Linked DNA regions of Homo sapiens: all the other regions are linked to region 3. The links come from fine-mapping of genetic effects on gene expression. A gene starts in region 3. Each other region holds a variant in brackets. All regions are shown on one strand. Distances are from middle to middle.

Region 1 (4,091 bases), 39 kb before region 3:
ATATTAAGACGGTAATACATTCCAAAGCAATCTCTAGATTTAATGTAATTCCTATCAAAAATCTCAGCTGCTTTTTTTTTTTTTTTGAAGAAACTGATGAGTGGATCCTAAAATTCATTTGGAAATGCAAGAGATGCAGAAGAGTCAAAACAGCCTTGAAGCAGAACAAAGTAAAACTTCTCACAACAAAGCAGCACTGATCAAGGCACTGTGGCACTGGCATAAGGTTAAACAGGTCAATGGAATAGAGTCAAGTGCCCAGAAATAAGCCTGTACATTTTTGGTCAACTGATTATCAATAATGGTGCGAAGATAATTCAATGGGGAAAAATAATGTTTTCAACAAATGGTGCTGGGACAACTGGATATCCACATGCAAAAGAATGTGGGCTCTTACACCACACACAAAACTTAATTCACAATGGATCAAAGATCTACACATAAGAGCTGAAATTATAAAATGCTTATTAGAAACTAGGTGTAAATCTCTGTGATCTTGGATTAGGTGATGGCTTCTGAAATGTGACAGCAAAAGCATAAGCAACAAAAGAAAAAAACAGATAAATTGCTGTACTTCATCAAAATTAACTTTTGTGCTTCAGAGGACACTATCCAGAAAGTGAAACAACAGTATGGAAGAAAGTTTTTGCAAATCAGCTGAGTGCGGTGGCTCACACCTGTAATCCCAGCACTATGGGAGGCCGAGGTGGGTGGATCACGAGGTCAAGAGATCAAGACCATCCCAGCCAACACAGTGAAATCCCGTCTCTACTAAAAATACAAAAATTAGCTGGGCGTGGTGGTGCGCGCCTGTAGTCCCAGCTACTCAGGACGCTGACGCAGGCGAATCGCTTGAACCCAGGAGGTGGTAGTTGCAGTGAGCCGAGATCACGCCATTGCACTCCAGCCTGGCGACAGAGCAAGATTCCATTTCAAAAATAAATAAATAAATAAATAAAGTTTTTGCAAATCACATGAGGATCTAGTATCCACAGTATACATATAAACTCCTGGCCAGGAGTGGTGGCTCATGCCTGTAATCCCAACACTTTGGGAGACCGAAGCAGGAGGATCGCTTGAGGCTAGGAGTTCGAGATCACCGTGGGCAACACAGTGAGACCTCATCTCTACAAAAAATTTAAAAAATTAGCCAGGTGTTGTGGTGTGTGCCTGTAGTCCCAGCTACCTGGGAGGCTGACGTGGAAGGATGGCTTGAGCCCAGGAGTTTGAGGCTGCACTGAGCTATGATTCTGCCACTGCACTCAGCCTGGGTAAGAGCAAAAGCCCATCTCTAAAAGGAAAAACAAAAAAAACAACTGTTACAACTCAAGATAAATCATTCAATTAAAAATAGGCAAGAGGTTTGAATAGACTCCTCTCCAAAGGAGATACACAAATGGCCAGTAAGCCCACGAGAAGATGTTCGGTATCCTTCTCCAATGCTGCTGTGAACATGGGTGCACAAGCTTCCGCATGGACAGGTTTTCACCTCCTTTGTTTTATACATTGGAGGGGAACTGCATGGATAAACCTTAAAAACAACGCCAAGTGTAAGAAGCCAGGGACAAGAGGACACATGTATGAAAAGGCACATCCAGAAACAGAAAGCAGATGACTGAACGGTTCACTAGCCTTTGTGTTTGTGTTAAAAACAGCATTTGCACAAAAGTGGGTTTCCCAGAGTTCCTCTGAGTGGTCGCCTCCTGGCTGGGGAATGCACGCTCTGAAGGCTGAGCTGCACACACATTCCGTCCGTGCTGAACCCCACACCACGACAAGCACTGGTCTCACGAGGACTCGCAGAAGCCCTCTGGAACAGGGTCGCTGCCTGTGTTCACATCTCCAGGCCCGAGGGCCTCTTCTGCGAGGCCAGACCCATCACCAGACGATGCCGAACCCTGTAGCAGCAGAGCGGCCGTACCTTCAGGGCATTGCAACACACCATTTCTTTACATCAAACACAGTAATAGACAAAGCATGGTTACTGCCCAGACCCACGCCCACTCTGCTGTCCTGAGACACTGGCAGAGGGAGAAAGTGCTGATGGCCAGTGCACTGGGCCCCGCTCTCTAGTTCAGTGCGTAGTTAAACTGGTTTGAAAACTTCTCGTGCTTCTTCTGGTCCATCCGGTTCATGGCTGCCACTACCCTCCGCACAGCTGCCCTGTGGGGAAACAAGGCAAGATGTGACCTGGGAGGCTTCCGCCAGGGGCCTGGGCTCCCAGTGGCGGCATCACCAAAGTTAGGCACTGGTCCTGGGGCAACTGCTGCCCTCGGACACTGACAGACTGCCTGTGGGTGCCACCTTCAGAGACAGATGGGCGA[C/T]GGGCCCCTTGGCCCTGGCCCGAGACAGACAGGCTTAGAAAGGGCCGCCCCAGGTCCCAGAAGCGGAGTCTGCGGCGGGTGGTTCTGCGCGGTGAAGGTGGCCCCAGCCCCACCTTGGCACTTCTCCCGTGGCCTCCCGCACTCCAGGATGAGGGCAGCCTCCCCCTTGGCCTCCCGGGGAGCGGCCTCGCAGGAGATGCAGCCAGGAGGCGTCAGGACAGCCCTGCCCGCTGCTGCACGCACGGCTCCACGGCCAGGGCTGGAAACCTGGAGGGCTGCAGCAGGGGGGGCACGGGCCAGGCAGGCATTCCGGGGAGCAGGATGAGGTGTGCTGTGCTGACCAGCTCAGCTGCTGCGACCCACGAGGGTGTGGAGCTGTGGAGCCAGCAGGGCCTGAGGCCACAATGTGGTGAAGCTGCCGCTCAGCTGCGGCCCCTGTGGGGCTGCCAGGCGCTGCTGTGGGGGCCCCTCGAGGCAGGGTTTTGCCTGTGGTCACCCCAGATCCTTTCTGTAGGGAGGGGTCTGGGCCACACAGCTGTGGCGAAGAGCCAGCTCCTGCCATGGGCTTCAGTGTCCCCATGAGACACAGGGAGGAGGCCTGGCATGGGCCCACTGGCCATTCCTCCTCCTGGGCATCAGCACCAAGGCTGGCCTCTGCCCCTGGCTGATCCACGGGAAAACAGCCTCACCCTGAGCTCCAAGGGCTAAGGTGCCTTGGGTGGCTGGCATACGGGATGGGTCCAGCCCTGTGCCAGGGGCCCCAGGCAGCCTCTCCACAGCCCCCACCAGCGCCCCTGCCCCACCCAAGCAAGGCTGTGGATGTACCACCCACAAGCCTGGGGGAAGCCTGGTCTGAGTGCTGTGAAGGCGCCTCCCACCCGAGCCCACTCAGGCCGGTGCACGGTCATGCTGGCCAGGAGGGGCCTCCTCTGCCCGGTGCACTTAGCACCTTCCAGGTGTGTCCAAGGGAGGGTTTCTGGGATGGCGATGGGTGGGGGCCACCTCACTGGTGCTACCAGACAAACCTGCACCAGCAGGGACTTGACACAGATTTGGGAGGGAGTCAACAGCCTCAGGTGGCTTCTAAACAAGCATTCTGGATTTTCTTAGGCGAGAACAAGGCAATATGAAGACAGAAACACAAGGCCGTGCGAGTGGCTGGTGCCCCAGCTGACAGACTGCACGCAGGGACGCCGGGCTGGTGGGCTTCGCACTCTGGCCCTGCCAAGTCCTCACCAGTCACACAGGCCCATGCTGGGCTGCAGAGACACCAGGCCAGCCTCCCAGAGCCAGTGCTCAGAGAAGACATGCTGGGGCTGGGCTCTGCTGGGGCTGACGCGTGGACCCCCGTTCTGCCCGCCTTTGCAGTCATCGCCCTCCCTGAAGTCACCGCTGCAGAAATACGCAGGCACTGACCTGGGGGTACAGCCAGGCAAGGGAGAGACGAGGGGCTCACTCTGCACCAGCCAAGGCCTGTGTCCTGGCATGGCTCCCCCAGGAAGCGAGGATGGCGGTGCCTGGCGGTCGAGCCCCTCTTATCCTGGGGAATGCTGGGGGGCGTTCCTGAGCAGACCTGCCTGCTGCCCCTGCTGGCTGGCACTGCCCCTCCCCGGGGAAAGGCTGGGTGGTCCCCCAGGGGAACTCAAAGCAGGGGAGCCCCTGGAGGCCCCAAGTCCCTGGAATATCTTGGCGCTCAGATGGCCCCCCTCGAACACCCTCACACGGGGGGGCCACGCGGTGGGAGGTGACCCAGCAGCCACTCTTACT
Region 2 (4,000 bases), 23 kb before region 3:
CTACGAAAACAGTGACCAAAAGACAGAGGAGGTCCTATGTGGGTACTAGAAAAGCTGGATTTTAAGTAAAAAATAGGAGGGTAAAAAAAGGAATGCTTGAAGGTGTAATAAACAAGAAGAGATATGTAACTTACAAATGCAGTCTCAAAACATAAGAAGCCATGCTGAGGGCTACGGGTGCAGAGGTATCCCTGACTGTGGGGACTTCGGCGAACCCTCTTGGGAAGTGGCTGTTAGGGAAAGAATGAGCCGTATCACGGGTGGTTTGTACAGCACAGTCAAAACCACCAAACTAAGAGATGCCGTGAGATTTCCTATCTGATATGGTCTGGCTCTGTGTCCCCACTCAAATCTCATCTTATAGTTCCCATAATTCCCACACGTGGTGGGAGGGAGCTGGTGGGTCTTCCCCGTGCTGTCCCCGTGAGAGTGAATGGGTCTCACGAGATCTGACGGCTGTAAAAGCGGGAGTTTCTCCGCACAAGCCCTCTCCCTGCCTGCTGCCATCCACGTTAAGATGTGACTTGCTCCTTCTTGCCTTCCACCATGATTGTGAGGCCTCCCCAGCCATGTGGAACGCTAAGTCCAGTAAACCTCTTTCTTCTGTAAATTGCCCAGTCTCAGGTATGTCCTTATCAGCAGCAGGAAAACGGAGTAATACACTATGCAAGAAGTCCCTTCTCCAACACACACGCGGAACTGACGAAAGAAAACCAAGTACTAAGTCAACAGGGGCCTCAGTCACCTCCCAAGAATCAGCACCGCCCAGACTGTGTCCTGAGACCACAGAACAGAGCGTCAAAAACAGAGGCCACCAGAGAGCTCAGACACCCGGAAAGTCATGTACACGTCATCGATTTTACACACACACACACACACACACACACACACACACAGGTCCACCCACAGACGTACTCTCACTGAACACGGGTGAGCTGCAGAGCGTGCAGGCCTTCTTTTGTGCAGGCTTACTGAGTACATACACACACATACACGTCCACACACAAGTACTTACAGGCATGCTGTCACTGAACACACATGTGCTCACCACAGGCTTTCTGAGGACACCCACAGTGCCTCCACTTACCAATGTGCAGAGCCGGGAATGCTCTGTTTGGAGAGAAGAGCTGGGAGGAGAATGAGGAGGCATGAGAACTGGGGGTACTGCAAGGCCGCCGGGCACAGGGGCTTCCAGGGAGGGAAGTGGGTAAGGACAAAGGGCCTTGCTCAGGCCCATGACAAGCATCCCGTGAATCAAGGAGTGAGCCACCGACCCCGTCCCTGAGTTGCAGAGGAGGAAAAAGCTGCATGTCTGAAAGGGCTCACAGAACTCGGGCTGTCTGGAGCCACCTCTGACTTGGGCCACTGACTCTCTGGACAGAGGTCAGCCTGGCACATGCACCCTGTGCTCAGTAGCTGCAGGGCTCGCCAGCCTGTGGCTATGAGCCAAGTCCAGCCCACCGCCTGTTTTCGTGAATAGGGTGTTACTGGCACCCAGTCACACCCACCATCTACACGTGGAGACAAGGCCTCATGTGGCCCCCGAAGCTGGAGAGACTGCGCTCTGGCCCTTCACAGAAGGTGCCTGTCCCGCTCGGGAGCTCCTCTAAGCCGTGCACGGCTGCACGCCTGCCAGGCTGCTCCCGTTTCCTGGGTTCCCAGGGGCTGAAAGCGGAGGGTGTGAGACAGAGCCACACAGAGCAGGTGATGGGGACGGACCTCCAGCCCCGAGGCGCGCACCCGGGAGACACCGGGCAGCCCCTGCTCAGCGCTGGCACTCAATGCCGTGTCCCGGGTGTTGCTCACAAACCTGCCAAGTGCCCCTCAGTATTCCGGCAATACACATGACACAGATACGGGCTGTCAGCACACGCATGCACACACACGCACACACGCACATGCTCACAGTGACGGAGGCAAGACTGACAAGTGAACAATGTGACATTTAGATACAATCGCAGCCAAAAGATCAATCTGAGAATTCCTAAGAGTTACAAGAATGAAATATATTTTTCATCGATTTGTTGTTTTAAACCATTAAAAAGATGGGTAAGCGTGTTAAAGCAGGGTAAATACTTAGGGCACTAAACACACTCCCACTTGCGCATCGC[G/A]TGGAAAATCAATCTCTCTGACATACTTTCAAAGCAAAACCCCAAAAATCAGACAGCATTCCTCAGGCACTGAGGGCATTTTCAGGAAGAATAACGACTCCCGGAAAACAAGAGGCCACACGTCACAGCCGAACGCGGCGCCCGCCTTGCCCGCACGGCGTCTCACTCGAGTCCAGTATCTTGGCTCAAATTCACTCCCACAGTTGTTTTGAGAAAGAATCATAAAAATGTCCAAATCCCCTTTTCTGTTTACATTGGCCAAGTGGCACCTATTTGCCTGAAGCACCAAAGCAGACAGTGAGGGAGGGAATCGATGGTAGGAAACGGAGAGGGGGGCCTCTGCGCCCAGGCGGCCTGCCCAGCGCTGACATTATTGATTTTACCTAGTTCAGCTGGCCTTGTAATTAAAATGTAAATTGGAGAAAGAGATTATGTCCTGACAGAAATGGTAGGATTAAGGGGAAGATAAAGGCCCCTCAGTGAAAATTCAGAGGAAGAAATGAGAAAGAAAAAGAGCACGGTTTCCTCCGTGGTGTGGATTTAGACTAAATCTAACTACTTCAGATTCGCCCACGTTTAATTGAAAAAACAGCGGCAGAATATAAACTAGTGTTATGAACTGAGCTGGCCCCTCCGCCTGCCCCCACGCTTCCCGCCTGGTCCCCGCCTCCGGCACTCCTGGGGCCCCCGGGGTGTGAAGCTGAGTGGGGCCAGGGGTCCTCCCTGCGCACCCCAGAGGGCAGCTCTGTCACCAGGGCCTGCCCCCTCCTTTGGGCCCTCCAGCCCTCGCCTGGGGCTGGTACAGCTGGTGCTGCATGCTCGCACCCGGTCGACTCCCAGCAAGGCCGCCAAGGGTACCCAGGCCAGGCCCACAGGGCACATCGGCACCTTCAAGGCTGACGGCAGAACGGCAGAACGGCAGAACGTGGTTAGCCCTCTCACCTCAAGAAGTCAATCAGTGGCAATAAAACCACCAGGGCCTCTGCCTGCCCCAGGCAAGGCTGTGATGGAGCTCCCAGCTTCTAAGGCACCCTCCCCTCCACCGGGGCAGGTCTAAGGCACCCTCCCCTCCACCGGGGCAGGCGTGGGCCTTGAGAGGAAAGGGGCAGGCGCCATGCAGTGGAGGAGGCTTGGAGCCAGCAGAGGAGGGCGCTGTGGGGACCTGCGGCTGCAGCGAAAGAACCAGCCGCCAGTGCACCAGCTGTGCACACTTCCCTGGACCAGGACGGACCCAGCAGGGACAGCTCATCATCTGCTGAGCCTGGGGCCTGAGCTGGAGACACACATCTGGAGGTGCCTTCACAACCAGGGTCAGGCTGGGACAGCCTACGGGTGAGGCTTAGCCGGGACTGCCAAGCCCAGTGCCTACCTGTGACCCTGTGAGGCTCGGTGTACCTGCAGCAGGGCTGTGTCAGAGCAGGCGTCCCAGCACACCCGGCAGGGGCTGCGAGGCCGCTCGGCCCCCTTGGCTGGACGCTATTGTCGATGGGCTCAGGACCCCTGGGCTTCAGTGGGGAGGGGATGGCCAGGCCTGGTGACGAGTGAGCGCTGTCACCGTTGTGTTTGGCCACAGGCCCGGGGAGCCTCACCTCTTCTGATGAAAGGAGACCGCTCTGTTCTTTGGGGAAAGTCACCTCGTTTGAGTTTCGCTTCTGGCCTTGCTTCAGATAATTTAGAGCCACAAGTCAGGTTTTAGGGAAAGTGTGGATTTCTGCTTTTGAGACGCCACACGTCACCCCGTCTAAGATGTGTAACTTCTGCTGAAAAGGTTCAGAAGCCATCATAACAGGCCTGTGCAGAGGCCCAAGGCCAGGAAATGTGTGACACTACAGGCCAAGGGTCAGTGCCAGCTCCCAGACTCTGAAGATGCCCAGGAGGGGTCCGGGAGA
Region 3 (4,081 bases):
AAAATACTTGGTGAAATGTGAAAATCATATACACTTCAAATGTCGGTGTTCATTCACAAAGTGTCATTGGAACGTCGCCCATCTATCCACCTACATCATCTACAGCTGTGTTCACAACTGAGGCATTACAGCAAAGCCTGAAACACAAACCATCTGGCTCTTTAAACACACGTTACCTAGCGCAACACACACCGCCCGGCACAAACGCCCACCGCCCGGCACAAACGCCAACCGCCCGGCACAAACACACACCGCCTGGCACAAACCGCACACCGCCCGGCACAACGCACACCGCCCGGCACAAACACACACCGCCTGGCACAACGCACACCGCCCAGCACGCACACTGTTTCAGCTGGGTGCCTCCTGCTGCAGGAAGGAAGGAAGGCCTAGAGCTCGGGACATCTCCCAGCCCCTCCTGAATGCTCCTATTCCCAGCTCCTGACCCCACATAAACCATTGCGAATTCGATTTCCTGGCGCAGGCCACAAAACCTGACCTGAAATTTTCTATCAAAATGTCAACACTCCATCACTGTATAAACAATCTATAAACTGCCATTTTACAAACACAGGATACAGAATAATCAGTGTCCTCGACTTATGCTCCACCCTCCGAGGGGAAGTTTTGCTTCCCCCATGAATCTCTGGCTGCCTGAGGGTGACGGCAGAGATCCCCTCCGGCGTTTTCCTTGGAGGAAGTGAACAGAGGTGGACATACCCTAAAGGCGATGGACCAACTCGCCCATCAGCAAGCTCTATTCTTTCCCTTCGAAAAGTCCAGCAGCAAAGAAAAAGATGCACGTTTCTCTCTGAATCACATTTGTGCACTCAAGAACTCCTACAGGATGTGCTCCAGACCACACAAATGGGAATGAAGAGAAGCACCAACCACAGAGCAGTGGGGTCCCCAACGCCACACGCCCCGACCCCAGAACATGACCACCCGTCAGAGCCGGGTACTGCAGGGCCCCGAGAAAATGTCCTGGGTGTGTCCCTCGGGTGGTTCTCTCCCAGGTGGGGGCAGGAGGGCAGGGCCCTGTGTGTGTCCTGGGCTCAGTGGGCCAGTCAGTTACTGTTACTGAACCCTAAGACATACTTGCAAATTTTCTTCAGTTCCTTCATTTTCTCAGGATTTAGTCGGGGTTCTCCTGAAGTTGTGAGCTCTTCTACCAACTTCGAAAGTTTCTGATCCATATCTAGAAATAAGTAAGGCAGAGATGCTATATCACCATCTGTATTTTATAGCTCTCGGTGTTATTAACGTGTTTACTGGGTTCCACTATAAACCGAAAGCTCCGGGAGGACCCTGAGGCTGGGGTCCATCTGTGGGTGCCTCTCTGGGAAATATGTGTGTCCAGCAAGGCCTTTACGGCGGTGATTGCAGTTTTAAAAGTGAACCTTAAACTCGGGACCTCTACAATCCCGTGTGTGGGACGCTGCATTGAGGGTCGTGCGTTAAAGGAACCAGTGGCGCTGTCCGAATCAGCTTTTCCCCAACGTGACTGTTGCTGTTTCCCTTATTCACTCAGATTCCGCAGGGCAGCCTCCAGCAAGGCTGCAGAGGCCAAGAGGAGCCAAGAAATTCTGAGACCAATGAAAAGTCGCGTCCGGAGAGCAGGGGCGGCCCTAACGGAGGCAGCCTGCCCGGATACCCAGGGCCGAGCACCGCGGCGTGCCTGGTGGGATGAGGCGAGGGCCTGCCGCACCGCCAGGGAAAGGCCGAAGGACCCGGAAGGAAGCGCCAGGCGAGGCCGGGGCGGAGGCTGGGAAGCTGCGCCCTACTCGGGGAAAGAAGGGGCCCGGCAGGGCCACGCGAGGCTTGGACCGCGGGGTCGCTCTCGCACAGCGGCTGCACCGGGCGGGCGCGCCGGCTTCGACGGTGCTCGGGGGGCTGCGGCCTGTCACTCGGCCCAGGGCCCGCCCTCCGGCCCCGCCGCCGGCGCTCTCGGGCACACGGGACACGCCCTGGCCGCAGGTCTCTGCCCGGCGCCCGCAGAGCCCCGGGGACCGAACCGGCGCGACCCCCGCCCGGCAGCGTAACCACAGCCCCACCTACCGCTGACGCGGCCGCTCGCCTCGCCCCGCCCCTTCCGGCGGGGGGACCGCCCCTCTTGTCAGGTGCCCAAGACCTCTACCGCCATTGGCTGGCCCTGGGCCGGACGCATCAGGACCTGGGGTCACCACAGCGACGACTGCACCTACCGCTCGACGCGGCCTTTCTCGCCGTTGCCCCACCCTTTCCGGTCAAGGCCCCGCCCCCTAGCACGTGCCCTGAGCTCGACAGCCAATGGCTCACCCCAGCCCAGGAGGCGCAGGCGCAAAGACGCGGCCGAGGTCTGCGCGGTGACGTAGGCGCGCTCCCGGCGAGGGCGAGGCAGGCTGCCGGGGGTGGGGAGGGGGACGCACGAGAAAAAAGAGGCGGGAGGGCGCAGAAAGTCCTTAAAGGGGCCGCATGTACGGGCGCCGGGGGCGGGGCCGGCCGGGAAACTGAGGCCGAAAGGAAGTTCCGGTCTGGGCCTCAACGCCACGCCCGCCCGCGGGCTCGCAGCCAGGTCCCTTCACCTGCAGAGGGCCGGTGAGGACCGCCCAGACGGGCGGGCGCGGGCCCCCGCCCCCGAGCTCGCCCCGCGCAGGGCGCCCTGAACCCCGCGGCGCCTCCCCGCTCCGGCCTCGGGAAGGGAATCCCTGGGCGGGCTTGGGGGTCTTCGGGGCCCACCTCGGCGCCAGACGCACAGCAGGTACCCCTGGGCCCGGGCTGGCCCTGGGCGGAATGAGAAGCAGAGGCGCCGTCCGTCCTGCCGCCGAAGTCCGCAGCCTCGAACGCAGGGGAGTGCGAGGTCGGCTGCGGACGGACGGACCTGGAGACCGCGCTTGGGAAACCGTGGCTTCGGAGGAGCGTGGTGTGGACCCCACTCGCGGGGCGCCCGGCACAGGCCACGCAGAGCAGACGCCCGACTGGGCTCCCGGGGCTGGGTGCAGGGCGGGGGCCGCCGGCGGCGGGCCGGGGTTTCTTTTTCGGGGGGATGGGCGTGCCCTTGCATTACGGTGGTGGTAGCTCACAACTCTGTTAATCGTGTTTTTACAGGGTGGGTTTCAGGATGTGTGAGTTATATCTCAGTAAAGCAATTATTTTAAAAAGGAAAAGAAGAGGGACTCCCTGCGCCGCCCCTCTCTGCAGCACCAGCTTCTGTCCCTGGGCGTCAGTGGCTCCCAGCTCCTAGCTTGCAGCCAGCCCCGAGCCGCTCCTCCGCCTCACCCCTTCCTCACCCTGCCTCTTGCTTCACTGAGCAAGCTGCAGCCAGACCCTCCCTCAGCGCCCCTTGCCCTGTGCATCCAATCCCCGGCCTGTGGCTTCCTCCAAGGCACCCATCCAGCAGTTTCCCTCTGTCTTCTACAGCGTGGTTTTTTTTGTTGTTACTAGTTCTCATTAGTATAAAAGGGTGCCGTTTCTCCCATACTAACAAAACCCTCTCTTTATCCAACTTTTCTTACCAATTGCTAAGTCCAGTCTCCTTTACACTGCCCCGGGGTGTCCTCTCAGCCCTCAGGCTCAACAGCACAGCCAAGCTGCCCGTCCACTGCCCTCTGTATCCGCTGATGGCCCTGCAGCCTTTTTTTTTTTTTTTTTTTTTTTTTTTTTTGAGACAAAGTCTCGCTTTGTCACCCAGGCTGGAGTGCAGTGGCACGATCGCGGTTCACTGCAGCCTCCGCCTCCCGGGTTCAAACGATTCTCCTGCCTCAGCCTCCCGAGTAGCTGGGATGACAGTCACCCGCCACCACGCCCAGCTCATTTTTGAATTTTTAGTAGAGACGGGGTTTCACCATGTTGGTCAGGCTGGTCTCGAACTCCTGACTTCAGGTGATCCGCCCGCCTCGGCCTCCCAAAGTGCTGGGATTACAGGCGTGAGCCACCGTGCCTGGGCCACCGTGCCTGGGCCTGCCCTGCATCCTTCTGTTCGCTTGGACCAATTATCTGACTCACTTGGGCTTCTCTCTTCCTCTCACTCCATGCCCATTTGGTTTGCAAATCCTGACAGCCCTACCTTCAGAACACATCCAGATCTGAGCACGTCCCACTG
Region 4 (4,101 bases), 39 kb after region 3:
CGGCACTGCTTAGGAAAGACGGGAAAGATTCTTTTCGTCTGCTCTACATCTAGTGGATGGGAAGTCACAGCAGACAGCACTTCAGCTCTCCATAAATACCTGACCAGTGCAAGCGAGCTCAACGAGACCCACTGGGGAAGGCCCCCCCGAGGCCCTGACACCACAGCCCGACACCGGCCTGCAGGACTCTCCCACTGGAGACCCTATCTGAGTGTGTCCTGCCACGAGGTGGAATTTCTAAAGGACGCAAGGCATATACTCAGTCTTTGCTCTGCCTGTGCAGGCGCCTCACAAGAGCAGGACAGAAAGTCTTCGCCATTAGACCATTAGACAAAGCGGCACAACCACCCTCGCTCGCGCGGAGGAACCCACACAGCATCCGCACACCAGCACATTCCAGACCGCCACCAGAAAAGGAAAGGCCTCTCTGGACGTCCCTTAGCTGCATTCAAGTTCTACGCGGGAACGGGGCCTTTCTGGACTTTCCAACCCCTGCCGGGCCGTCCGCCTCACCGCGGTGCTGACGCTGCTCAGGCACAGGGCAGAGCTCCGGGCAGCTGGTGTGCTGCAGACAGGAACCCTTTGCTCCCAGTGCAAGGGAAAAGGCCCTGCCCAGAACGCGCCACGGTTACGCAGAACGCAGGCATGAAGGAGGCCGGGGAGGGGCTCACCGGGGCCACGGTGTCTTCACAACTGGAAGACCCCACCTCCCTGCCAGTGGCTCTCAGGGTCCACATCCAGCCGCTTACTCCTCAGGCCTCCCACGCCTCTGCGCACGCTCCTCCCACCTCCCTGCCTCTGCTCCTCCTCCAGCGCTGGCCCGGGGCTATCCAATCTGAGTTCAGGGGATGAGCGCAGCACCCCCTCTCCCTCCAGCAGGGCAGCTGCTGACCCAGACAGCAGCTCCTCCCCACATCCACGCCCCCCAGAGGAGCCAGGCCAGCCCCGGAAAGCACCGCCTCCTCTTCCGGGGGACTCAGCACGTGACTCCGGGCCCTAAAAGCTCCCCTCCACTGGCCTGGGCTGGCTGGTTAGCAAGAGCCCCTTCACAGGCTCCTTAAAGGGCATTTGGTGACCGAGTGAGTGGAATTTCAGAAATGCTAAAGACTCTAACTCGAGCCAAATTATCACTCAAGAATGAGGACAAACTGAAGTTACTTTCAGATACGCAAGGGCTGAAAGCTGAGCACACACAAACCTTCCTGGCAGAAAAACTACTCAGAAATATTGCTTAGTGATCAAACACAATAAATCCGTGGACAAAGACAATGTAAGACACAAGAAACAGCAATGCAGAGAGGGGCCAGCAGATTCTAAGACACAAGAAACAGCACTGCAGAGATGAGCCCGCAGAAGATACAGCTCGCCCAAATGAGGACAGGCAACCTCACAGACCGTATCATAGGAAGAACAGTGAAAAGGGGCAAAGCATTAAAAATAGATTCCTAATAGCACAGGCAACAGAAAGAGACAAATGGGACTACATCAAACTTAAAAACTGCAGAGCAGGAAAAACCAACAGAGTAAAAAATGGGAAAAAATAGCTGCAACCCAGGGATCTGCATATGGAGCTACTATCCAGAATGCACTTTTAAAAACGCCTACAACTCCACAACCAAAGGAAATATCCAATTTTAAAATGGGTGAAGGACTTAGACACTTGTACAGAGAAGATAAACCAATGGCCAAGCGGCACATGACAAGATGCTCCACACGACCAACCACTGCTCAGGAGACACAAGTGCAGACGTGAGGCATCACCTCGTGCCCGTTAGGACGGCGATCACTCAACACCGAAAGCTATGCCACGGCAGGAAGC[G/A]GAGCAGCGGGACACGCGTGCAGTGCCAGGGAACGTGCCCGGCGCAGCGTGTAGAGCAGCGAGGCAATTCCTCAGAACGTTAGGCACAAGGCTCCTGAGTCCCCAGTAGGCCACGAGAACTGAAGGCAGGGTCCCAGGAGGTATCTGCACACCTGTGTTCATGGCAGCCACGAGGCAGAAGCCACCCACATGTCCATCACCAGGGGAATGAAGAAAGAAAACGTGGCAGTCACACACCACATAACGACATTTTGGTCAACAACAGACCGTGCAGGTGATAGTGGTCCCATTAAGATTAGGATACTGCATTCTCACTGCACCTTTTCTATGTTTCGATGTGTTCCATGCAAAACACCACCGTGGAACAGCTGCCTGCAGTATTCAGTGCAGTGACATGCTGTACAGGTTTGCAGCCCAGGAGCCACAGGCTGTACCACGGTGCGGGCGTGCAGCAGCCACACCATCTGGCTCCTGTTAGTTCATTCCACGATGTTCACACCGCAAAGTCGCCTAACGATGCATTTCTGAGAGTTTTTCCATGTAAGTGACACATGACCGTATCTGCACAGGTAATGGTTCATTTCAGGCATCAACTTGATGGGATTTGGGATACCTAGAGAACCTGTGAAGCATTACTTCTGGGTGTGCCTGTGCGGGTGTTTCCAGAGGAGACTGGTGGGTGAGTGGGAAGATGTCCTCCAGGTAGGTGGTGCCATCCAGTCCGCTGGGGCCCAGACAGAACAAGAAAGTCAGAGGATAAGCAATTTCCTGTCCCTCCTGGAGCTGGGATCCTGCCCTTTGGCATCAGAACTCCAGGGTCTCTGGCCTTTGGATGTTGGGACTTACACCAGCATCCCCCCAGGGTTCTCAGGCCTTTGGCTTTGGACTGAGCCACGCACCAGCTTCCCAGGGTCTCTGGGGTGCAGGTCTGCTGCGGGACTCAGCCTCTGTAATCACACAAGCCAGTTCCCCAATAAATCCCCTCATCTACCTCTATATATTATGAGTTCCGTCCCCCTGGGGACAAGTAACACAATACACAGTGGAACAGTATTCAGCCTTTTAAAAGAAGGCAATCCTCTCACTCACTGTAACATGGGTGAACCTTGAAGACATTATGCTAAGTGAAATAAGTCAACCATGAAAAGACAAATCTGCTAACTCTGCTTGTATGAGGTATCTCACACAGTCCAACTCTTAGACACATAAAGCAGAATGGTGGATCCCAGGGGCTGGGGTGGGGAGGAGGCAGTTTTGTTCAATGGCTATGGAGTTTCCGGTTTGCAAGATGAGAGGGTCATGGTGATATAGATGGTATGACTGTACTGTGTGCTTACGGAACGGTGTCTACGCTATAAATGGATAAAGTGGTTGCTGTATAAAATGGTTGATGGCAAATTGTATACATATATAACAGTATCTTTTTAAATTAAAAAATGTTAACAAAAATTCTAATGAATTTTGATAAATGGCACCTGACTGCCAGACTTCTCATAAAGCTAGAGTGCTGAAGCCAGTACAGCACTGGTCTAGGAATGGATGCAGGGGTCAATACAGGGTGGGGAACCCAGAAAAAGACCCACAGGCAGGGTCCATTTACATACAGCCAAGGGGCCAAGGCAACTGAGGCGAAGGACAGTCTCTGCAACAGCCAGGACAGGGAAGGGATGGCCCTCAACCCAAACCTCACATCCCATGAAAAGTGCCTCCGAATGGATCACGGACCTAAACACAAAAGCTCAAACTGTGAAACTCCTTAGAAGGAAACAAGGGAGAAAATCTTTGCATCCTTGAGACAGGCAACAATTTCTTAGAAGGATACAAAATGTACCAACTGTAAAAGAAAAATCCATCCTCTGAACCTTATCAAAATTAAAACTTCTGCTCTTCAGAAAACAATGTAAGAAAGTTAAGAACACGAGCCATGGACTGGGAGAAGGCCTTCACAGCACAGCTGACAAAGGGCTTCCATCTGGAATACAGCCAACTCCTGCAGCCTCAGTATTACGACAAGCAAGCCCCCCAACCCACTTTTCTTTTCTTTTTTCTTGAGACACAGTCTCACTCCATCACCCAGGCTGGAGTGCAATAGCGTGATCTCGGCTCACTGCAACCTCCGCCTCCCGGGATCAAGTGATTGTCCTGCCTCAGCCTCCTGAGTAGCTAGGACTACAGGTGCCTGCCACCTCGCCCGGTTAGCAATCCCATTTTTTTAATGGGGAAAAGGTTTGAACAGGAACATCACAGAGAAGTTCTATGAAGGGCAGGTAATCTCCAGGAAG
Region 5 (4,101 bases), 53 kb before region 3:
CCACCCCTGCAGCCTGCTCCGGTCCCACTCCCCTGCCCCACAGCCCCGCAAGGGAGCACCGGGCTAGGCGTGTCAGCTTGGGGGCGGTGTCAGCTTCGGCTACTGCCTGGAGGAAGAAGCGCCTGCCTGTTTTCCCCGGGGAGAAGGGGCTGCCTGGGCTCAGCTACCTGCCCAAGAGCGTCCCAGCCCATTCAGACCCAGGCCCCCAAAAGTCGGGTCGAGTGCTCCCTCTTGGAGCTGCCACCTCTCCTCCAACGACGCTGGAAACAGTCCCTACATCCCCTCACAGGCTCTCGGAGTCCTGTGGGTTTGGTGTTCGCCTGAGCTGGGCTCAGGGAGGTGAGAGGCAGAGGCGCTTGGGCTGGGCGGCAGTGTGGATGCAAAAGCTGGTGCTTGGAAGCGGGGAAGGGCGACGGGAGGAGGGTTCAGAGCCCCAGAAAGGGTGGGGAGGCGGCATGAGACACTGGCCACAGCCGGGCAGGTGCTGCCCCTCTTCTGCCACTGGCGGGAGTCCTGAGTCCTGCCTCACAGAGGGAGCTTGGCTCTGCCTGGCGGCTGTGCCCTGACTGGGCCCAGTCTCCTGGTGTCCTGTCCATTTTCCGTGAGTGGGCTGAGCTCATCTCTGGGCTGTCAACCTGACAGCAACCACTGGGGGAGGGCTGGGGGCAGGTGGCGGCAGTGAATACCCAGTGCCACAGGCAAGATGGGAGACACTGCTGCCCACTGGCCTGGCCAGCACCTGTGGACAGAGAGCAGGCCCAGAGCAGCACCGGCCATCGGGCAGGTTGAGGGGGCGGGGCGCAGGGGCGGCTGGGATCACCCTGTGTGTTTGCTGCCCCCACACCCCAAGCCCCAGGCAGGCCTTGGTTCCTCCAGCCAAGGGCCGGCCTGACTCCCAGTTGCTCTCTGCTCCCTTTCTGGGTCCGCATAGGTGAAGTCACCTGCCTGCAGCAAGCGTCCTGAGGCTCACCAGCCCGGGGGCAGGGCAGCCTCTCCCTCCTCCCTCCTCCCTCCTCCCTCCTCCCTCCGCTGGCAGAGCTCAGACTTGCTCGGTGGGGGTCCATGAGGGAAGGCGAGCCACCTGCAGGTGGCCAAGTGTAGCCAGAGGGTCGACTCACAGCTGAAGCCAGTGCAGCGGGCTTGGCCTAAGCTGGGCACTGGGGCTGCTGAGTGGGAAAGCAGCTGCTGCGTGGCCAGGAGGAACCCAGGTCTGTGCTGCAAGGGCCTTCCCCTTTGCTGAGCTTGCTGGAACATTCCAGGAGCTCACAGCCCCACAGGGAGATGATAGAAGGTGGCTGCGACGGTGCAGGCCAGATTCAGACCCACTCAGAGCCGGGCCAGACCGCTGTGTGCAGCCCTCCCATGGAGCTTAGATCCTGGCTCCCCGTCCCTCCAGCTTCCACATGCCCCCACCCTGGCCTCCTCTGTCTCCTCCCCTCAAGCCTCAGCCAGAAACACAGAGCCACACCGGAGGGCCCTCTAGCAGTGCCCCTGGGCTGCAGGATGGGATGGAGGGTATGGGCCGGGGGCTGTGAGGTCTGGGAAGCAATACCCCCCTCCTTGCACCACCCCTTCTCTAAGCTCCCTGGACAGCCCACAGCCTCATGCTGCAGGCATGGGGGGCATTTCCTCCAGTCTCTGATTCACAGTCACTCTGCAGCGGACCCTCGTCGGAGTCGGACTGCGTGCAAAGCCACCTGAGCCTCCCACTGTGCTTTGCTGAGAGTCACATGTGGGAAACTGAGGCCCGGCAGTCATGGGGCTTGCTGGGGGCAGTGCCAGCTCTGGTGCCAGTGGGTGCCCTGCTCCCTCCTGAAGGAGCCTCCACTTTTTAGCCCACACTCCTACTGGGTCCCCAGGCCCCCAGTCTCCCTGGGAGAGTTGGGGAGCCATTCCCTTGCCTGCCTCCCAGGGAGCCCTCGGGCTGCCCCACCACCCCCATTTCCACCAGGTTTGGGCCTCCCCTGCCCGCCATTTCCAGTCTAGGCTGCCTGTGCCTGACTCAGTTTCAGCTCCCTGGGCCTGTGCTGCAGGCAGAGGTGAGCGGGAGCCTTGTTAGGGGTCTCAACGTGTCCCCCACTTTGGTGTCAGGGCCGTGA[G/A]GGAAGGTCTCAACCTCAGGATCTGAGGGCACTCTTCCATGGACCCTCCTCCTAGGGCTCAGGACCCATCTTGCCCTGGACCACACCTGCCCCAAGTTCCCAGAACCACACACATGTCGTTGCTGCAAAGCCAGGCACAGAAGGGGCCTCTTGTCAAGCGAGCATGAGCCCAGACAAGGGCGGCGTTTGCTCTCACGCCCTGGGCTCCCGTCTCCTGCCCAGGGACCGCTGAGCCCAGACGGTAAGGGGCCTCCCATTGAGGCCACCTCCCCACCCCCACCAGCCGATGGTGCTGTGGTCCATTGCTGTGTGGGTCAGGCCTGGGTTTGGCTGCGTGTAAGAGAAAACCTGAATGAAGAGAGTTGAAAGGAGACTGTTTACTTTCTCTTTGTGAGGGAATTCTGGCCGTGGCAGCCCTGGGCAGTTTTGAGACCTTCACTGAGTCCTTGGAGACCCAGCTCCTGGCTCTCTGTGCTGCATCAGGCCTGGACGGGCCTCAGCCTCACAGAACCCAATGGAAACTGAGGCTCCAGCCACCACATCCTCACCCCCGGCTGCAAACAGGAAGAAAGGGAGTGGCCAGCAACACCCCTCTCTTTTAAGGAGCTTTCCCGGAAGCCCACACAACACAGCTGCTTATGTCCCATTGGCCAGAGCTGGGTCACGGGCCCTCTCTTAGCCAAGGGAGGCTGGGAAGTGCAGTCTCCCCCCAGGCATCTCACTCCTAGTGAAAGGTGAGGATGGATTGGGGCCACCGGCTGCCCCTGCCGAGCCCCCCTGTGCTCCCCACCCATGCCCACCTGCCCACACCCCCAGCCCCAGGCAGCTGGGCTTCTGAAGAAAGTCGCCCTCAGCCCGCCTGGTCTTTTCCGAAGCCCAGGGCCTCGACCTTGGTGGGCACCCAGCTCCTACACCCTAAGGTGTCTGGTGTACCCTCTCCATAACCCCACCCTGGGTTGGCCACAGGTCCAAGCCCATCTTCCAGCCATAGGATCTTGTCACCTGCCTGCGTCCTGCCAGGGGAGACAGCCCCTGCTGGGCTTCAGATGCGTCCAGTGTCTCCAGGCTTAGGCATAACCCTCCCTGGACCCCGTGTGGCCTCCAGCTCTCCCCCTTTCCTCCCAGCCTCCAGCCAAAGTATCGAAAGAGCCGTCTACACCTGCTGTCTACACTTCCTCCTCACTTCTCCACCCCTAAGGAGGCTCTCGCCGTCACTCGGGCCCTTGGCTGCCCCATCCTGGCGTGGCCTCCTCAGCCCCCTGCTCACTTGGTGGCTGGTTCCTCCTGCTCCGAGTCCTGGGCAGCCTGGGCTTGGGGAACCCTCATCCTCCACTTGCCTTCCTGCCATGGCAATGGTGTGCCTGGCCCTGTCCTTGCCCCGCGATGTCCTGGCAATGGTGTGCTTCTCCCTGTCCTTGCCCCGCAGTGTCCTGGTAATGGTGTGCCTCGCCCTGTCCTTGCCCTGCGATGTCCCCCCGGGGGCCAGGGGCCCTCCAGGCACCACAAAGCCAGACCAAGCTCCTCCCAGACCAAGCCAGCCCCACAGCCTCAGAGCAAACCCCAGGCACCAAGCACCCTCCCCACATCCAACCCAATCTACCCATATCCAGATGCCCGAAAACACCCTGCATCCAACCTGATCTACCCACATCCAGATGCCCGAAAACACCCGGCATCCAACCTGATCTACTCACATCCAGATGCCCGAAAACACCCTGCATCCAACCTGATCTACCCACATCCAGATGCCCGAAAACACCCGGCATCCAACCTGATCTACCCACATCCAGATGCCCGAAAACACCCGGCATCCAACCTGATCTACCCACATCCAGATGCCCGAAAACACCCGGCATCCAACCTGATCTACTCACATCCAGATGCCCGAAAACACCCTGCATCCAACCTGATCTACCCACATCCAGATGCCCGAAAACACCCGGCATCCAACCTGATCTACTCACATCCAGATGCCCGAAAACACCCTGCATCCAACCTGATC
Region 6 (4,101 bases), 44 kb before region 3:
CTATCTATCTTATCTTATCCTATCTATCTATCTATCTATCTATCTATCTATCTATCTATCTAATCTATCTATCTATCTAGTTTTGAAAGCGTCTCGCTCTGTGGCCCAGGCTGGAGTACAATGGCTTGATCCTGGCTCACTGCAACCTCTGCCTCCCGGGTTCAAGCAATTCTCCTGCCTCTGCCTCCCAAGTAGCTGGGATTACAGGTGCACACCACCACGCCCGGCTTAGACAAGTACTTTAAATCAGCTTCTACACATATGTTCAAATAACTAAAGGAAACTGTGTCTACAGAATTAAAGTATGAGAATGTTTCACTAAACAAAGAATATGAGTAAAGATACAGAAATTATAGGAGAGAGCCAAATGGAAGTTTGGAGTAGAAAAGTACAATAACTGAAATGAAAAATTCACTAGAGCAGCTTGACATCAGGTTTTGTTTGGCAAAAGCATCTGTGACCTTGAAGATAGGTCAACTGAGATGACCCATTCTGAGAAGAAGAAAAAATTCCGGAATAAAGGAAAGTCAAGGAGGCCTCCAAGGCTGTGCCCAGCTCCACATCAACACACGTAGCTGGAGTCCAAGTGGGGGAAGAGAACATGGACATAAAATATTTCGAGAAACGACAACCTAAAATTTCCCAAATTTGCAGAACCACAATGGAGCGCTGAAGGCATACTCACCACACATCAACTGTGTGTCAGCAGAACCATGAGAGTTACTGGTGCAAAGCACTTAAAGGGGTCCCCTGTCCAGTCACTGGCTGAACATGAAGCTGACAAAACCGAAGGATTCAATACCCACATTCAATATCAATATAACTAGGCAGAAGATCAATAAGTGAAGAGAAGATGTAAACAATCAGACTACAAGAAATATTAACCTCTATATCCAAGAAGCTCAAAGAACTGCAGGTAGGACACACTGAAAGATCCACAATTAGACACACCACAGTCAAACAGTCAGAAGCTAAAAAGAGACTGAGACATGGTGCGGTGCTCCCGCCATGGAAACCACAGATGCCAGAGGCAGTGGAATGACATCTATAGAGGACTGAAAGAAAAAGAGGGCCAACCAAGTCAGCCATATCCAGCACAATTATTCTTCAGAAGAGAAGGAAAAATTACAACATTCTCAGATAAACAAAAACAAAGAGAATTCATTGCTAGAAGATCTGTCCTACAAGAAATACTTGAGGCTGAAGTCCAAGACACCACACTCAAATCCACACAAAGAGCACCAAAAAAGACAACTGCAAAGCCAGCAACAGAGACAGCAGAAACTCATTTCTGTTTGTACATCTTTTCTTCTTCTATGTGATTTAAAAGACAACTGCATAAAGCAATAATTACAAGACTGCTGACGGACTTACAATCTAAAAGGTAGCATTTATATGACAAATACAGCACCAAGAAGCTGAGAGGAAACAAAGCTACTTGAAGTGAAGGTTTTTGTACATTATATTAAGTTCATCTGAACACTTGATTGGTTTTACGTTGTTACTGTAATACTCAGAGCAGCTGCTAAGAAAGTTACTTTTAAAAAAACCCAGTAAAACAGACAAGGAAATTACAATGTTACAAGAGAATTAAATGTCCATTTAACACAAAAAAGTAATGGAGAAATAAAGGAAGAAAGACAAAAAAGACAATATAGTAAACAAATTTAGAAATGGCAGATACAAATCCAACTTTCTCAGTAATCACACTGAATGTAAATGGATTAAACATCCCTCTCAAACAGCAGAGACCAGCAGGACAGATGAAAAACATGATCCCACTATGTGCTGTCTACAAGAAACACACTTTTGATTCAGAGCAGAGACCAGAAAGACAGATGAGAAACACTATCCTACTATATGCTGTTTACAAGAAACACACTTTAGATTCACGGCAGAGACCAGCAGGACAGATAAGAAACA[T/C]GATCCCACTATATGCTGTTTACAAGAAACACACTTTAGATTCAGAGATACAATGAAAGTTAAAGGGTGAAAAAAGATACCATGCAAACAATAATCAAAAAAGAGCTAAGTGGCTATACTAATAACATACAAAAGGGACTTAAAGACATTTTTTTTTCACTAAAGACAAAGAAGGACATGTCATAATGATAAAAGGGTCTGTTCATCAGAAAGAAATAGAAATACAGATGCACTTAACAGAGCTTCAAAATTTATGAAACAAAAGCTGACAAAACTGAAGGATTCAATACCTCACATTCAATATCAATATAACTGGGCAGAAGATCAATAAGGGAAGAGAAGACATAAACAATCAGACTACAAACCAATCAGACCTAACAGGCTTCTATACAACACTACAAACCAATCAGACCCAACAGGCTTCTATACAACACTACAAACCAACCTCTGACCCAACAGGCATCTATACAACACACACACCAACCTCTGACCCAACAGGCATCTATACAACACTACAAACCAACCTCTGACCCAACAGGCATCTATACAACACTAGAAACCAATCAGACCCAACAGGCATCCATATAACACTACAAACCAATCAGACCCAACATGCATCTATACAACCCTACAAACCAATCAGACCCAGCAGGCATCTATACAACACTACAAACCAACCTCTGACCCAACAGGCTTCTATGCAACACTACAAACCAATGAGACCCAACACACATCTATACAACTCTACAAACCAATCAGACCCAACAGGCATCTATACAACACTACAAACCAATCAGACCCAACAGGCATCTATACAACACTACAAACCAACCTCTGACCCAACAGGCATCTATACAACACTACAAACCAATCAGACCCAACAGGCATCTATACAACACTACAAACCAACCTCTGACCCAACAGGTGTCTATACAACACTACAAACCAATCAGACCCAACAGGCATCTATACAACACTCCACCCAACAAGAGCAGGATAGATATTCTTCAACACTCTGGGACAGAAAATACGGTATGCCAATAAAATAACTCTCAATACATATAAAAGACGAGAAATCATACAATCTATGTTTTTTAGCCATAATGGAGTGAAATAAGAAATCAGTAACAGGCCAGGTATGGTAGCTCATGCTTGTAATCCCAGCACTTTGGGAGGCAAAAGTGGCAGGATCACTTGAGCCCAGGAGTTCCAACACAGCCTGGGCAACATAGTCGGACCCTGTCTCTACAACAAAATTTTTAAAAATTTAGCCAGGCTTGGTGGCTCATGCCTGTAGTCTCAGCTACTCAGGAGGCTGAGGTGGGAGGTCAAGGCTGCAGTGAGCTGCGATCACTGCACTGCACTCCAGCCTGGGAGATAAAGTGAGATCTTGTCTCTCAAAAATAAGAAAAGAAGTCAATAACAGAAGGAAACCTGGGAAATTCACATATATGTGGAAATTAAACAACAAACTCTTAAATAACCAAGAGATAAAAGAAGAAATCACCAGAAAAATCAGAATATACTTTTAGATTTAAAAAAGGGAAAACACAATATAGCAGAACTTAAGGGATGAAGTAAATCAGTGCTGAGATAAAAATTTATAGCTACAAATGTCTATATGAAAAAGATTTCAAATCAGTAAGCTAATTTTCCATCTTAAGAAACAAGAAAAAGAAGAGAAAATAAAACCCAAAGCAACCCAAAGGAAATAATAAAGATTACAGTGGAAATTAACAAAATAAAGAATGGAAAATCATAGGGGATAATAAACAAAACCAGAAGTTGTTTCTTTAAATAGATCAACAAAATTGATAAATCTTTAGCTAGACTAAGGGGAGTAAAAGAGAGAAGAATCAAATTACTAAAACCAGAAAATACTATGAATAGGCTGGGAGCATTGGCTAACATCCACAATCCCAGCACTTTGAGAGGTCAAGGTGGGAGGGTCACTTGAGGCCAGGAGTTTGACAAAGATCAGCCTGGACAACACAGCAAGATCCTGTCTCCACAAAAAAATTTTAAAGAAAATTAGGGCTGGGTGTGGTGGCTCATGCCTGTAATCCCAGCACTTTGCTAGGCTAAGACAGGAAAATTTCTTGAGGCCAGGAGTTTGAGACCAGCCTAGCCAACATAGTGAGACCCCATCTCTACCAAAAATAAGCTTTTAAAAAATTA

Evidence for each region. PIP is the estimated chance that this variant, and not a neighbour inherited with it, causes the effect.
Region 1: its variant is the best candidate, but not a certain one, in a credible set for the expression of UVSSA in lung (GTEx, PIP 0.56).
Region 2: its variant is the best candidate, but not a certain one, in a credible set for the expression of UVSSA in sun-exposed skin (GTEx, PIP 0.71).
Region 4: its variant is the best candidate, but not a certain one, in a credible set for the expression of UVSSA in gastroesophageal junction (GTEx, PIP 0.59).
Region 5: its variant is the best candidate, but not a certain one, in a credible set for the expression of UVSSA in T cells (TOPMed, PIP 0.56).
Region 6: its variant is the best candidate, but not a certain one, in a credible set for the expression of UVSSA in monocytes (BLUEPRINT, PIP 0.90).

The regions. Positions count from the first base shown.
Region 1 is chr4:1,383,940-1,388,030 of GRCh38, reverse strand. UVSSA (UV stimulated scaffold protein A) reads right to left here. Exons shown (of 14, transcript NM_020894.4): 13 at 4,091; 14 at 1-2,163. The coding sequence ends at 2,070. Among named protein-coding and RNA genes, the nearest start is that of NKX1-1, 20 kb to the left of the region's middle. The variant C/T (reference allele first, on the strand shown) is at 2,325.
Region 2 is chr4:1,368,153-1,372,152 of GRCh38, reverse strand. All of the region lies in intron 8 of UVSSA (UV stimulated scaffold protein A), which reads right to left. Among named protein-coding and RNA genes, the nearest start is that of UVSSA, 23 kb to the right of the region's middle. The variant G/A (reference allele first, on the strand shown) is at 2,112.
Region 3 is chr4:1,345,207-1,349,287 of GRCh38, reverse strand. UVSSA (UV stimulated scaffold protein A) reads right to left here and starts at 2,080. Exons shown (of 14, transcript NM_020894.4): 1 at 1,528-2,080; 2 at 1,099-1,198. The coding sequence starts at 1,196. RefSeq lists enhancers at 1,392-1,471, 3,317-3,839, 3,840-4,081 and silencers at 1,702-2,141, 2,382-2,711, 2,932-3,021.
Region 4 is chr4:1,306,283-1,310,383 of GRCh38, reverse strand. All of the region lies in intron 1 of MAEA (macrophage erythroblast attacher, E3 ubiquitin ligase), which reads right to left. Among named protein-coding and RNA genes, the nearest start is that of MAEA, 18 kb to the right of the region's middle. RefSeq lists enhancers at 1-571, 1,469-2,366. The variant G/A (reference allele first, on the strand shown) is at 1,820.
Region 5 is chr4:1,398,242-1,402,342 of GRCh38, reverse strand. No RefSeq gene overlaps it. Among named protein-coding and RNA genes, the nearest start is that of NKX1-1, 6.2 kb to the left of the region's middle. The variant G/A (reference allele first, on the strand shown) is at 2,100.
Region 6 is chr4:1,389,536-1,393,636 of GRCh38, reverse strand. It overlaps a transcript of UVSSA not described here. Among named protein-coding and RNA genes, the nearest start is that of NKX1-1, 15 kb to the left of the region's middle. The variant T/C (reference allele first, on the strand shown) is at 1,924.